Regions from separate parts of the Homo sapiens genome. Here region 2 is linked to region 1. Evidence: fine-mapped expression QTL. Tissue or cell type: sun-exposed skin. Region 1 holds a variant in brackets; the other region holds the start of a gene. All regions are shown on one strand. Distances are between the middles of the regions.

Evidence for each region. PIP is the estimated chance that this variant, and not a neighbour inherited with it, causes the effect.
Region 2: CDHR1 starts here. The variant in region 1 is fine-mapped to the expression of CDHR1 in sun-exposed skin (GTEx, PIP 0.95).

What each region holds. Positions count from the first base shown.
Region 1 is chr10:84,154,597-84,162,701 of GRCh38, forward strand. No RefSeq gene overlaps it. Among named protein-coding and RNA genes, the nearest start is that of CERNA2, 13 kb to the right of the region's middle. RefSeq lists enhancers at 716-1,229, 6,305-6,806, 7,139-7,854. The variant A/G (reference allele first, on the strand shown) is at 3,299.
Region 2 is chr10:84,191,502-84,199,606 of GRCh38, forward strand. CDHR1 (cadherin related family member 1) reads left to right here and starts at 3,036. Exons shown (of 17, transcript NM_033100.4): 1 at 3,036-3,314; 2 at 3,993-4,088; 3 at 5,004-5,149; 4 at 6,285-6,335; 5 at 7,531-7,620. The coding sequence starts at 3,260. RefSeq lists silencers at 2,932-3,061, 3,132-3,251.

The DNA.
Region 1 (8,105 bases):
TGTAGTCCCAGGTACTTGAGAGGCTGAGGCGGGAGAATCGCTTGAGACAAGGAGGCGGAGGTTGCTGTGAGCCAAGATCGCGCCACTGCACTCCAGCCTGGCAACAGAGCAAGACTCCGTCTCAAAAAGATAAATAAATAAATAACATATAAAAGGTAAGCTGATATATAAAATGTGATCGTTTGTAAAACATACCAGTTGTAAATGGTAATAGAAAAAAATCACTAGTTTCTTGGCTCTTAACATACCACAGAGTTTTTGTTTTTTTTTTTCCTCATTCACAGCGAAGAGTAATGACCTGCAAAGTGATAGGCTTTAGGTAAAAAAGTAAATGTCCATTTTTCATTTTCTGACATCGTCTGAAATACTAGAGGATAAATGAAACATGTTTTAAAATAATCCCGAGAAAAAAGGCCCTTTGAGTTGTTGCTTAAAATGGCATCTACTGAACAGTCAGAAAACATGAATTTTTTATGTAACAGGTGCCATGCTAGCTGGGCCCAGGGGAGACAATGATGAATAAAAGTAATTGCCTTCTAAAGCATATCAAATCCGTGTAAACACGGCCATAGGCCATTGGATGAGTGTCACAGAAAGGTAAGCAAAATGGAAATGCAGACTGAATAATAAGTTTCTAAGATGGCCCAGGAGGAAATTTTCAAGAGTAAGCATAGTAGGTAAAGCACACAGAAAAAGGTAGTATGGGCATTTCATACAATGGATGCTTGATGGGGGAGGGCTGCAGGGAGAGATGGACAAAGTGGAAAAAGATGGTAAGAAATGGAAATTCTCTTGAAGCTGGATTTCCCACTTGCTGCGGGTGTGTGCTTTGCTTAACATGTTAAAACCTGCAGGCGTGGTGGCTCATGCCTGTAATCCCAACACTTCGGGAGGCTGAGGCAGGAGGATTGCTTGAGCCCAGGAGTTCAAGACCACTCTGCACAACAAAAAAACCCATCTCTACCAAAAATTTAAAAATCAGCAGGGTGCAGTGGCGCATGCCTGTAGTCCCAGCTACTCAGGAGGATTGCTTAAGTCTAGCATTTCGAAGCTGCGATTGTGCCACTGCACTCCTGCTGGGCAAAAAAAAAAAAAAAAAACTAGGAAGACAGGCAGGCATGTTTACCTTGAAATTGTATCTGGGTAACGTGTCCAGGTTAAAGGTACTAAAACTGAGTGATACCCAAGACATATAATTCCAGTGGGGTAGGGTGGCCCAGCTACACTAGTAATAGCTGATGTTTGAATTGAACTCTTTGCCCAAAGTTTGATCTTTGCACAAGGTCATATGGCTGGGAAGAATAATGAGACAAACTCCCTAACCAATTATGCCGGGAGGATAGATGATAGATCTAAAATCGTGTAGGACACAGCCATATAAAAGAAAGCAAGCTTGTCCTTATAGAGTTAGCTGGAGGCCATCATCCTGTTACAAACAACAAATTAACCCAGGAACAAAAAAACAAATGCCCCATGTTCTCACAAATGGGAACTAAACATTGGCTACTCATGGACATAAAGATGGTAATAATAGATACCTGGGATTCCTAGAGGAAGGAGTGGGGCAAGGGTTGAAAACCTATTGGACACTGTGCTCGGTATCTGGGTGATGGGATCATTGGTACTCCAAACCTCAGCATCACGCAGTATACACAAGTAACAACCTGCACATGTATTCCATGAATCCAAAGTAAAAGTTGAAGAAGTAGAATTTTGCTTGAGAATCACAAAAGCACTATACAAATTAAATAGGTTGAGATTCTATTAAAGTGTAAGTCACTTTTAAAATCTTGGGAATCAGTATTCTGAGTAAATTAAAGGAAATAGAACAGGAACATTTTAGTTTTCTGTGAAAAAAAAATTGACCTCAGTGAAGGATACTGGAAATCATCGTGCCTTCCTCACATCTATTTCTTACGGTACAAAATAGTCCTTTTTTGTATTGCCCAGTTCACTCCGAGCTACAAATCAAAATTGACCATTTTTTAAGGTCAATTTCATCAATAAGATGAAATCCTAAATGCATTCCATTTTTAACTAGCACAAAATGGAAATGACTTTTCAGGAATAGATTAGAAAGCTATGACCTTGAGGACTTTCCACCTTTAAAGTAAGATTCTTTTGTGAAGCAATTCAGGAAGATGGACGGTGAACATTCAATTCATTAACATCTGAGAACCATGAAGAGAGTATTTTTTGCCACAAGCAAAAATGAACCTAAATAAAAGACTGGTGGGGGAGGAGAATCATAACGACCATTATGGCCCGCATCTTATGGGCTGCTGCGCAGTTAGCATGAGGGGAGGCCTTGCACAAGCTCTTCCCCTCAGCCTCAGCATCCTGTTCTGCCTCATTTGTGGCTTGCGTCAGACTGAGTCACCCAGCGCAATGTCACTCTTCCTCAGGGGACTTCTCTCAACCTTCCACCTTCTACAGAGAGCTTGATGGATGGTGAGGTTGTTGCAACCTCACTGGATACAGATAGTAGAAGTGCGAGGATCCCCGTGGCTACACTCGAGATAAAATTAATGTGTTCTGGCAGGACTGAATGGACGTTTTTCCTCACAACCGTATACGCAAGTTTAGTAGTTTTTAAACATTCAATTTATGCTTTCCACTGGGCAATTTGTAAAAGCAGCATGATGACCCACAGGTATGGTGTCAGTGGGCCATCATTCCTCCAAGTTAACCCTCCATATGCCTGACATGGATTTTCTCACCTGTGTCCCCAGAGTGTTTTTACACAGTCAACAGAGAAAACAGGTCCATGGCCATCTCATTGGAGGAATGTTACAGGTTTATTTTATTTGCTTAGTAGTTGAATTATCTCATTTCTAAGAGACAGCATTTTTTTGCATTTCATTTCTGAAGTGCATATTCTATTTCAGGATTTTTCTTTTTTTTCTCAAAACTAGCATGTCTTAAAGTCAGTGGCATTTTAAAATGGAAAAATATTTGCCGGTGGTTTTCTTTTTCCCATGATTTTCTAATACTTCACTGTCCTGTAAGAACAGATATCTAAAGCATTGTCTTTTGATAAATGACCTCAGTAACTAATTATTACTTATTTATGATTCAGAGGGGATCTTCTGAAGTACAAACAAGCTCACCCCACCCAGTTATGTACTTTTTTGAAGATTTCTTTTTCTTTTTTTTTTTTTTTTTTTGCTTAAGCAACAAAAATTTATTTTCTTACAGTTCTGGAGGCTAGAAATCCAAGTCCAAGGTTCCAGCATGTTCTGTTTTTGGTGAAGGATCACTTTTATTTTTCTGAGACCGAAGTGCTGGGATTACAGGC[A/G]TGAGCCACCACACTCAGTCAAGGATCACTTTCTAGCTTGTAGATGGCAGCCTTCTTGCTGTGTCCTCACATGGTGGGGTTGGGGGAAGAAGAGAGAAGGCCCAGTTACGTACTTTTAAGTATGCAGGCTGAACGGACTGAGGTCAGCAACACAGAATGACCCCCAAACAGGAATATAAATGGAAGTTAAGAAAGGGCACGTTACTGGTTTGGTATGATCTGTTAGTAGAGTTAGGGATTTAATAGGTTCATTCCATTTGGTACACCTTGAGGGAATGAACTGTTAGCACCAGCTGTGGGGAAACACAAGGATGAATGGCTGGAAACCCATCATTCTAGAAGACAGCATCCAATGAGCAGTGGGAGTGGGTAGTTGCTAGGAGGATCTAATTCTAGAGAGAGAAGGCAGTGCTGGAGGCAGAAGCCTTTACTGTGGGTGGGGAATGTTAATCATTAGAAGCCACTGTTTTAAGAGATTAAATCAACATTTATTAGACACTCTAAAGTAGTACGAGAGTAGTTAAATGATAAGAAATAGCAACACACTTCAATGATTCAAGGTAATTATAAAATCATTATCCAGAAATTACAAGAGGTTTATTCAGACTAATTGCCACCGGAGTTCAGAGGACGGAAGCAAATATGAGGAGTGCATATAGGGACATTTGAGTCCAAACGCACCAGCCCAGAAGGGTTGGTACTTTGTGGAAAGGGGAATGTCTGGCCTGGCTCGCATGTGTAGCATCATGGGGACTTCCTGATCTCCTTTGCAGAGAACCCAACCTTCTCTGCCTGCAAGACCCTGACAAAAATGTGGGTATTCTTGAAAAGCTATAAAATGTCCTTCAGGACTCTGCTGTGTGACAATCAAATGACGCCACCCTTAACCACACTGTTTCTCAGAAGATGCAAGCATGATTGCCTTCCTCATTTAAATAGAACGGTTATTTAAAAAGAAGTTGGATAAATTATGACAAGACTTTCACTGTTATTAATTCTGAGTGGCAGAAAAAAATGGGCATTTGATAAGAAAATGGGGCTTTTGGTATCTTTTTTAGTACATTATAGCTGCCCTTAAGTAATTTTGTAAAAGGCAAAGGACACATGGGGAGAAAATGAAAATTATGGAAACACTTTACAAGGAGCTTTCCAGATCCGGGAACTAGTGGAATGGCCCAGGAAAGCAGTCTCTCCGCCCTGCGGAACTGAACCCAGGGCCTTCAGGGTCCTCCTAGCCTGGCTCCTTCTGTGAGGTTGAAGTTTACCCCGGAGTACATGGCCCTAGCTTCACCTCCCACATCCCTGCCCTTTCCTGGGTGTGCTAGGTGTGGGGGTGAAAATGCGGAGGCAAGGTGACACATGTCTGCTGGGAAGCCTGCTGTCAAATTGCAAAGTACAGAACAGACGCTGACAAACAGGATCCATCTCAGCCCTACCTGCAGTTTTCCAGCTCTAAGCACCGGCAAAAGAGGAAAGCTTTGGCACTGCTAATCCTCCTTTCTACACAACCTCCCTCCCTCCTGCCCGAGTTCCTCCTCGCACTTGCTCTGTTTGTCCTCTCACCTTTCTCTGTCAAAATCTGCACTTGGATATGAGCCTAGGATCAGTCATTTGGACCTTAATTTCAGTGTGTGTGCTTCCTTTGCCTCAAATTGTGGCAAGAAAAATAGTCGTTCCTCATTAAAGCAGTATCAGCTATCCTTGAGCACAAGTGGGAGGTTGGGTATTTTTTGGAGACAGATTGCTGTTGAAAAAGAAAGGAAGATCAGCAGTCCCACTACTGGCTATAAATTCTAGGGGAATTTAATCAGTATCTCGAAGAGATATCTGTACTCCTGTTTATCACAGCACTATTCATGATGGCCAAGATGTGGAATCAAGCTAACTGTCCATTAACAGATGAATAGATAAGGAAAATGTGCTATATATACACAATGGAATGCCACTCAAAAAATGCCTTTAAAAAGAATGAAATTCTGTTACTAGCAACAACAAGGATGAACCTGGAGGACCTTATGTTAAGAGAAATAAGCCAGGTACAGAAAGACAAAAAATGCACGTTTTCATTTCCATGTGGGATCTAAATCAAACTCATAGAAGCGGAGAGTAGAGTGGTGGTTACCAGGGGCTGGTGGGTGGGGGGGAATGAGGAGATGTTATAAATGATGTGTATTTATGGTGATGGATATGGTAATTAGTTTGATTCCATGATTCCACACTGTGTACATATAACATCACTGTGTCTGCCATGATAATATATTATTATAGTTTATCAAAAAATTAATTTTAAAATATACTTCATTATCATATTATAAATTAAAAATGAGAATTCTGCAGAAACTGGAAATCTAAGCCAGTGGTTACGATGTTAACCAAAAAGATCCAGAAGTTTAAAAAAAAAATTCCTGGGGAATAGTATTACATTTTGGATCAGCGTTAAGTTCAATTTCACTAGAATTTCAGGGTCAGAATGGCCTTGTTAGTTGAGTGTTCTAAACTCTTTTATCTGTAGTTAGGTACAATGGCATGTGCCTATAGTTCCAGCTGCCTGGGAGGCTAAGGTGGGAAGATCACTTGAGCCCAAGAGTTTGTTGATGAAAAGAATCCAACTCTGTAAAATATTTGAAGAGTTTTATTCTAAGCCAACTATGCATGACGATGGCCCATGACAGAACCCAGGAGATCACGAGAACATGTGCTCAAGGTGGTTGGGCTATAGCTTGGTGTTGTACATTTTAGGGAGACTTAAGATTTCGATGAATGCAGGTAAGATGTATATTGGTTCAGTACGGAAAGGTGGGACTACTCAGAGGGCTGGGGGGCTTCCAGATCATAGGTGGATTCAAAGATTTTCTGAATAGCAATTTGTTGAAAGTTTATCTAAAGATCTAGAATCAATTGAAGGGATTGTGTGGGTTAAGATAAGAGGTTGTGGAGACCAAGGTTCTTCTTATGCAGATGAAGCCTCCAGGTGGCAGGCTTCAGAGAGAATTGATTATAAATGCTTCTTATCAGACTGGATACTAGACTCTTAGTTAATTCTCTCCTGGATCTGGAAAAAGACCTGGAAAAGGATGAAAATCAACTCTACAGAATGTTGATTTTCCCCTCGAGACAGCTTTGCAGGGCCATTTCAGAATATGTCAAAGAAATACATTTTGGAGGTAAAATACGTATTTCTTTCAGGGCCTGCTAGCTGTAATATTGCTACAAAGAGTCTTCAGGTCTCTATTTTAACGTTAATGCTGGTCAGCTGTGCCTGAATTCCAACGGGAGGAGGGGGTAATGAGGCCTGTCTTCCCACCCATTCCCATCATGCCTGAACTAGCGTTTTAGGTTTACTTTAGAATGCCCTTGGCCCAGAGGAGGAGTCCACTCAATTGGTTGGGGATGGGGCTTAGAATTTACTTTTGGTTTACAAGTTTGAGGCTGTAGGGCACATAATATTATTGCACCTGTGAATAGGCACAGTACTGCAGCATGAGCAGCATAGCCAGAGGAGAACCTGTCTCAAAAAAGTAAAAGCCTTTTATCCTTAACTATTGTAATACTCAATTATAATAAACGTGGGGGGTAAGAAAAATTGAGAAAGGAAGGGAAAGCTATGTACCCCATTTCTGAAAATTGGCCACCTAAAATAATAAAAAATTATGTTCATATTGCATGGCGCTTTTAACATTACACTCTCATCCAGTGAATCTGTTCCTCTCCAGCTGCACCTACTATTTTACATCGAAAATAACAAAGGCACAGAGAAGTTGAGCAACTTGTGCAGGTCACACAGCTAAAACATAGGAGAGCGCTGGTTAGAGCATGGATCATGTGGCTGTAAAGCCTGTGCTATTTTAACAAGTGTAGGGGAGGTAGAAAGACACCAAATACAAGGGTCCTGAGTCCCCTACTTTAGGCTGAAACTTGGGCTGGGTATGAAGGGGTGGGGGCAAAAGACAGAAACTCCAGAGAGAGAGAGAGCAAGGCCAAACATGAAGGGGGTATGCTTATCAAGAGCCCAGGGACTGGTTTCACACATGCTTCAACACCAACCTAGAGTGGCCATGGGAGAATGAAAGACATTGCCTTTTAGTCTCATCTTTGTGGCATAGTGGAGATCATGACATTTCAGCACATTCCCTGCGGAGGAGTCTGCAGGCCTGCTAGCTGCTGCCATAGTGAGGCAGGGTAGCCCTACCACCAATGCTATGGTGGACAGATCAACCCAGGGTACAAGGAGACAATAAACAACGTAAACCCCAAATAATATTATAAGCCCCTCAGCTGACTGATGGACTCCTTTGCTCTTGGCCAAGGGAATTCCAAAGTAAACCTGAAAAAACTAGTTCAGGCCATGATAAGAAGAGGAGGTCGGATATGCCTCACTATACTCTCCTCCTTTGGAATTCAGGCACAACTAAACAATATTAACCTTAAAACAAATCTCAGCATTTTGGGAGGCCGAGGCGGGCGGATCACAAGGTCAGGAGATCGAGACAATCCTGGCTAACACGGTGAAACCCCGTCTCTACTAAAAATAGAAAAATTAGCCGGGCGTGGTGGCAGACGCCTGTAATCCCAGCTACTCAGGAGACTGAGGCAGGAGAATGGCGTGAACCCGAGAGGCGGAGCTTGCAGTGAGCCGAGATCGTGCCACTGCACTCCAGCCTGGGGGACAGCATGAAACTCCCTCTTAAAAAAAAAAAAAATTAAAACAGAGATCTTAAGACTAATAAAGCAGACTTTTTATAGCAATAAGATACCAAATTCCAGCCTGACTCTAGTGTAGTATCACATGACAGATAGTAAGCCCTGA
Region 2 (8,105 bases), 37 kb after region 1:
CATGGGCAAGGGACTGTGGGTTGGCACACTCAGGTAGATCAGATAAAGGCAAAGACATGGATGTGCACGTGAGCCTGAGTTGGCATATTGGCAGACTTACAACACATGCATGCCCAGGCTAACAGCTGACACGCCAATTCTCGCTTATCAATAGCTGGAGAAGCTGCCATAAATCCACCAGAAGAAGAGCTGTCAGAAGCTGACTTTAAGATGACACTATGTGGTACTGCACTGCAGGTACCATGGCAAGGAGGTCCCAGGAGACAGGGAGCTCACCACCCTTCAGGGGTGACGGGCATTTGGAAGACAGTGTGACTGGTGTGCCTGAGGCTGCCCAGGCTCTGTAAGTGAGGGTCAGGTCCCATGTCTCATGGCAGATGAGTCCTACTGAGCCTTGACAAGCCAAGACCTTCCATACTGCAAGGTCAAGATCAGGGTCCATGGTGAGAACCACCATAAAGAGCTGCTGTTTTCCCAGGTCCTTAGGTGATTTGAGGACAGGGTTGTATCTAGGGTGACCGCCAAATACCAGGTTACCTTAGGCTTTGCTGGTTTTAGCATTGAAAGTCCTGCATCCCTGGAAACCCCTCAGTCCCAGGCAAATTTGGGCAGCTGGTTACACTAGCAGATCTGAACCTAAAACAGCTGAAGGAAGCAGCAGGAGTTGGAGTGGGGGGTGTGGAGGGTCTTTCTCAGACCCTTCTACATCAGAATAGAAGTCAGATGTAATGGTGCTGCCTGTATTCTCAGCTGCTCAGGAGGCTGAGGCAGGAGAGTCTTTTGATCCCTAGAGTTCAGGGCCAGCCTGGGCAACATAATAACACCCTATCTCTAAAAAGAAAGAAGAAGAAAATACAAAGTAAAATACAAAACTGGGGCTCTGGAAGGAATGTGTGATGTGTGAGTGAGAGGCCTAGAAGCTGAAGCTTCAGTAGATTCAAGATCATCTTCTTCTGCCATGAAAAGGGTTTGAACCAGGCGGGCACAGTGGCTCATGCCTGTAATCCCAGCACTTTGGGAGGCCAAGATGGGTGGATCACCTGAGGTCAGGAGTTCAAGACTAGCCTGGCCAACATGGTGAAACCCCGTCTCTACCAAAAAAAAAAAAAAGAAAAAAAATTTGCTGGGCATGGTGGCGTGCACCTGTAATGCCAATATTTGAAAGGCTGAGGCAGGAGAATCACTTGAACCTAGGAGACAGAGGTTGCAGTGAGCTGAGATCCGCCATTGCACTCCAGCCTGGGTGACCGAGTGAGACTCCAGCTCAAAAAAAAAAAGAGTTTGAACCTTCTTTGGAGCCAACCCAAACTGTATGTGAATCCAAGCTCTGCACCTCAGAGAGAATAAGTCACTTGCTTGGTCGTACACAGCCAATGAGGAAATCTCCCTCCTCTGCAAAGCAGAGAAAATCACATTGGGAGAGCAGTGCAGGTCAAATAAGATAATATGGGCAAATATACATAAGCACACATACAGCACATGGCATGTAGGCTACTCCTTCCCCTTCCCTCTCCAGTGCATGGCTGTTGACTGAGGGAACTGAGGAGAGAGAAATCAACGGCCCTAGATTGGTGAGGAGCAGGGCTAACAGGACCCAGGGAGAGCTGGCTTTTCTCGGCCCACCAAGACATCTACTCCAGGAAACCTTGGCTCTGCCTCTGGCTCCTGGGAAATCCACGGCAAGACTCAGTCTCCACATCCCTATATGGGACTTGCAGAATACTTGCCTTAGCTTTGTCCCAGCACTTTGGGAGGCAGATTCAGAACATCTGTGCAATTTAAAGTGTGTCTTTTCAGCAAAAGAGCCAAGCCTAAGGAGACTCAACAAGGGTTTCGGCCAATTAGGCCTGAAAACTGCTGCACATTCTAAAACCATTGATTCATCTTCCTTCTTCTCTGCAAATCCCTGACCCTTGCTCACAGTAGATCATGTAGGGCTAGACCAAGGGATGGGGGGTGCTCTGTTCCCTCAAAGGCCCCTGGCAGGGGGAGGGGGGGAATGCTGAGTCCTCAGCTGTGGAGACCTCTCCCAGGAGCACACAGAGGAGGGATCTCCTCTATCTGAGAACACATCCACCCAAGGGCATCCTGGGAAGTGGCCTGGCTTGGGCTTGAAGTGACCTGTACCCCCATAAATGGCCCAACCAGGAAAAGGAAAACAGGCTGCATTTCCAAGCACCCTCCAGTGTCAGAGCAGGAGAACGAGGAAGCCCAAGGAGCTTTACCAGCAGCCAAAAAGGTTCCTGGGCTTACCTGTGTCTTCAAGTTATCAGCATCCAGGACCCCAATAGCAGTGCCTTGCTTTGTGTAAATACCCTCTAGGAATGAGATCTCGTGCCTCTCGGGCAGTTCAGATCTATCTTGGCCAGCTCTGTGCAAGTCTGTCCTAAGATGGGGCTTAACTCTGCCTTCAGGCCCTTCACTCTTCCTTGGAAGGTTTGAAGAGTGGGTCAGCTGCCCCTTCATGGTCCCAGACTGGGCACTGACTGGGAATGGGGAGCAGAACTGCCTCTCACCCTGGTGGACACCTGAGGGTCCTCCCTGCTGCCCACCACACAGATCAGACCCTTTGGGAGAGGTGGTCCAGCCTGGGGAACAGGGCAGGAATGGGTTGAGATCACAGAGAGGGGGTCCTGATAACCCCTTACCATCTGCTGCCCATCCATCACCCTTTCTCTTTGCCTTTGGTCTCACGCGGCTTATAGAACCTGCTTAGACTGCTAAGGCAAGGCCCTCTCGGCCGCTCCACTAACTTTTCTTCTGGAATGCTTAGCTCAGAGAAGACAGCTAAGCCCCTGAAAGTCACAGAGGAAGTTGATGAGAAAAGAAAACTGCGAAGCCCAAGCCCCACCAGGACTTAAGTACCCTGGGAAAGCCTCAGGACAACTTGGGGGAAAGACACTCCTGTCCCCCATGGTGTCCTCCTGTCCAGGACTGGGGGCCGCCGGCAAAGGGGGCGTGGCGGGCGGGGAGTCCTCTTGTCACGCCCTCCTGCCCCCGCCCGCGGCTGGGAGCCTGTCGCTCCGCTCTGCGCCGCTAATTGGTCTCGTCAGGCGGCCGGCAGGAGCAGATCCGAGCCGTGTCATCCTCTTAGCGCCCTCACGCCACCCGCCGCTCCCGCCCCGTGCCCCCTCCCGCCGCGGCTGCAGTCGCCGCTACCCCCATTGTGGTCTCTGCCCTCCCCGCGGGCCCAGGGCATGCTCCGTGCCCCTGCGCCCGGTCTCGGCGGCGGCAGGCGACACTCCGCGCCGGCGGAGACATGAGGCGCTGCCGGTGGGCCGCCCTGGCCCTGGGGCTGCTGCGCCTCTGCTTGGGTGAGTGGCCGCTGGGCCGCGCTGGCCGCGTGGATGGCGAGGGAGATGGGCGCTGGCGTCACCCAGGTGGCCAGAGGGACATGGTCCTGGACCACTTCCAGAGTGGGACTCGGGCTGGTGGACGGGAGCGGAGAAGTCCTTCCATCTTCCTGGCCCATTCGGTAGTGGGGAGTGGGGTAGCGGAGTAGTGGGGAGCTCCGGGGCGCTTCTCCAGAGCTGGCATCCTAGGGCCCCAGGGTTTGGCGCCCGGACCCCCGCTGCTCTCCGCTTGCTGGGAACCAGAGCTGTAGGCTTGGTGGCAGCTCCGATGCTGCGTGGGGCAGGAGATAGTGCCCTGACTCGCGGCTTGACCTTGGCTGGGCTGGGGCACTGCCCCTCTCCGAGCGCGGGTGCAATCTGCCCATTGATGAAGGAGGGGTTGGATTGCTACCTGGGTTCTAAGCGCCCACATGCTACGTGTCCCTGACAAGCCCGAGCCCACCGGGGGCGGAGTGGGGGTCAGGGGCATCCTCTGGGCGGCGCCCCAGTGGGGTCCCTCGGTGCACTTGGGTTGGGGAGGCGGAGCGCCCTCCTGCCCAGTAGCTGGGCCTGACGCGGGACCGCGCTGGTGCGAAGCTCCCTCCTGGTGTCTGGGTGTCCTTTGCCTGGGTGTCCGTCTGTTCTGTGTTCTTTTTCCAGCTCAGGCCAACTTCGCCCCGCACTTCTTCGACAACGGGGTCGGCAGCACCAACGGAAACATGGCTCTGTTCAGCCTCCCAGAGGACACCCCTGTAGGTGAGTAGCCCTGGCACCTGCTCCCGATAGGTCTCCCTGAGGGGTGCAGGCAGACTTAGAACACAAAGTGCCCCAGGCACCACCCAAGTTGCTGCGCGCGCCCGGGGGCTCCTTGTTTGCTCTCCGAATTCCCCTGGGCAATGGCAGGAAAGAAGGTCATTGCTGCCATGGCGACTTAAGTCTGGCCAGTCCTGGAGACCAGGGCTCCCCCCCACAGACAGGGTCGCCCCGCGAGGCAGGCAGCTACAGCTGCCCCTTATGGCTGTGTGACCTTGAACAAATGTATTTACCTCCCTGAGCCCCAGGTCTCTAGGCTTTAAAACGGCCTAAGAACATCCAACTTGCTGAGATATGCAGAGAGAGGGGAGGAGAAAGGGGAGATTTCACACTCCTTCTCCCTCACTTTGTGGGTAGTGGGAACCCGGGGAAAAGGGAGAGCAGAGCAAAGTAGGCACCTGGCTCAGAAATCCCTGCAGAACCAGGTCCAGGCATCGGGGACAGTGGTGCACTGTGGGTCACCCCTCCTGCCTTAATGGCTGCTCCCATTTCCCCTTCCCTGTACCCAGGAGCCCCTCAATCTTGGATCCTGAGAGAGGAGTTATTACCAGGCTGAGCAGAACATAGGCACTACAGTTAGGCACGGCAGACCTGCACCTGCTCTGTAACCCGTGTTATAGATTACAATCTGGAAAGTGGCTGATCATCACAACCACCCGCTGTGAAGAATAAACATACAAAGAGGGAAGCAGCCAGCAGGGGTGAGGCCAGCAATGAGCACCAAGTTCAGGGCAGTACCTTTGGCACTGAGTTGAATAGTCACTTTATAAACAGCTGAATCGTTGGTCCTGAGCATCTGCCACTTTTAGGAAAAGTTGGGTCTCAGATTCTATGTCTCTCCACTGTGTTTCCTTCCAGGCTCTCACGTATACACCCTGAATGGGACAGACCCTGAGGGAGACCCCATCTCCTACCACATCAGCTTTGACCCCAGCACTAGAAGCGTCTTTTCTGTTGACCCCACTTTTGGAAACATCACCCTGGTTGAAGAGCTGGACAGAGAGGTATGGGGAGGTGTGGGGAGTGCTGCGGGGCCACTGCCTGTAGACAGACCTCGGTGGGCTGAAGTTCCCCTGGAGCACATTGGTTAGAACCTCTCCACAGAGTAGGGGATGAGGGGGCACACCCCAGGCACATCCACTCTGTGAGATCTCTGGGCCACTTCCCATCAGCAGAGTGGGCTTTACTTTCATGCTCCTCCTTCACACAGAGCGAAGAGTGGGCTCCTTTAACGAGCACCTGCCAGCCCTGCTAATCTTTTAAGCATGTTCCATTAAAAATAAATCCGTTTGCACTTTGAGGTTTCTGAAAGAAACCTCACAAAGTGATTTTTCAAGCCTGTCCTGGGAGAGGCACAGGAACTCAGAGCAGGTCAAGGCTGGAAAGGGTGGTTGGCAGTGAGTCTGAGTTTGGCAGAGCTCCTCCACTCTACACACTTGAGAACTTGCAGGCAACAGGGCATGGGCTTTTTCAGACCGCATAGCAGCCTGGTGTGTGGCTAACTGGACCTCAGCTGTGGGGATGCTGCCAGCTCGTGACAGCCTCCACTAGCTGCAGGACAGGGTAGAGAAAGGAAAGGGAGGTCTCAGGGACTGCTGTGGGGACACAGCAGTGGAGCCTGACTGTGCTGCCAGTACCCCACTCCCTGGCACCCGCGGGATCTGGCAACATCCGATACCCTTCCCCATTGAGGTCTCACCATATCCTGGGAGCACTGAGACACCATGGATGTGAGCCTCTGCAGAGCCCTGGAATGTGGAGAGGTGTGGAGAGAAAAGGGGAGAAAAGGGAAAAGAAAGAGGAAAAGTCTTTATGGGACCTTGAGCACACTAAGGTCGACATCTCGCCTCACTGTGGCAGGAGAGTATTTTCTGTTGGAGCCCCAACAGACCCTCTGGGTCTCTGAGTTTATAAGAACCCCGGACACAAAAGTCCCAAAATAAGGTCTCAAGCATGGGGGGAGGCAGCTTTCTACTCTGCCAGGCATGCTGTCACCACCACTTACCCTGCTCCAGGGATCTATTGGCACGCCCAGACCTCCTCTGATGGGTGCGTGGGGCAGGGAGAGCTCCATCCAGCCACAGGGGTCCTATGGCGTGTCAGACTCCTGGACACTCACTCAGTCCCTGTGCTTCACAGAGGGAAGATGAGATTGAAGCCATCATCAGCATTTCTGATGGCCTGAATCTGGTGAGTGCACGTCCAAGGCAGTCCCTGGCAGCCTGCAGTATTTGGGCCTGAGAAGGGTGAGGCTGGCACGATTCCTCCCCAAGCCTTCATGGGGGCTTTTCTGCAAGTTTAAGCTAGGGCCCAGCAAGACCTGCCCAAAGTGCCCACAGGAGAGGGCTGCAGCAAGGCCAGGGGGAAGGAAGGAAAAGAAGGAATGGAGAGATCAGGCTCTCTGAGCTGAGCTTCTAATGGGTCTAACCCACATTCCACAGCATCTCCTCAAACTTGCCCTCCCCATCTGCTTCCCCCACCCAGGTCTTGCCCTCCTGCTCAGTCACCTGAGCTCAACACCCCACAGCAACCACTTTCTCTCAGCGATCATCAGTGCTCACTGGATAACTCAACAAACCCCAGGGGCTCACTGGCCTCCAGGCTCTCCGACCCCAACTGCCTCTGAAGTTGTCACTATGGAACAGTCAGATCTGCCCACTCTGAGGCTGGGAAAGCACTAACAACTGGCCTCCGCCACTGGCGGGATGAAAATTAAGCTTCTGCCTGGTGTTCCAGGACTCCTCGTTGGGCACCATCTGCCTCACTGCCTTTTCTCTCACATCCACCCCACCCAGGCCATAATCTAGCCATAAATCTACTTTCATCCTCAGCTCACCATGCATTTCACTCCTCTTTGCCTTTGCACATACAACCCCTTCTTCCTGGCACAACTTTCTACCTCTTTCCTTCTGGCAAACTGCCTCATGGATTAATTCTCACTCCTCTAAGAAGCCCACCTGCTCTCCACCACCACAGCCCAGGAACTCTCAACCCCATCGGATGCATTTACACAGGCCATGTGTGTGCGCTGGTGCAGTGCAGGGGCCCCGCCCTCAGTGCCTGGCATACTGCTGCTATCACCTTGAGGAGATCATAAAGTGTTTTTTAATATGCTGATCTTTGCCCTGATATCCCAGCCACCATGACTACTGCAAAATAACACATCATCAGACAGTCTTCTGCCTCCAGGATGAAACACAGTGTTTGGCACTAAGAGGCTGCTTAATGTTTATTGCATTAATGAATAAAAGAAGGAAGAGAGAGAGAGAGAGAGAGAGAGGAGGGATGGGCAGAGACGTGTACATTGGAGTGATAGAGGTCGCTATCCATTCATCCTTCAGAAGGTCTCATTGCACTGGCTCTTGACCCCTCTGCCCCTTCTCAGGTGGCCGAAAAAGTCGTGATCCTGGTGACCGATGCCAATGATGAGGCGCCCAGGTTCATCCAGGAGCCTTATGTTGCCCTGGTTCCCGAGGTAAGTGAGGAGCTGCTAGAGGGGCTGATTTTCCCACCCAGGCCCATAGCCTACCCCTGGGGCTGCCCTGTGGCCTGGCCATGGCTCACTGCCCTGTGGAGAACCTCTCTGTCACCACCTGCTCCCTCCAACATTCGCTTTTATTCCAAAGGAATGTTCATTTGCTTTTTTCCATTATACATGTTCAGTGTAGAATTGTGAAATGTGTAGAAAAGTAAGAGAAACTAGAGTTTTCAAAATCACCCTCGCTGTCTCCAACTTGAGACATTGTTAAATTTTGGTGTATTTCCTTCTAGTCCTTTTTGTCATTATAGAGTTTTGTTTTGTTTTTTTCTGTTTGTTTGGCATAGTTGTGATTATACTAAACATATGCTTCCTATATCCTATTTGCACTTAAGTTATAACATAAGCATTTTCCTCATTAATTGTAAAGTTTGGGTAACTATCATTTTAATAGCTTCCATAAGTGAACAGTCTATCATTTA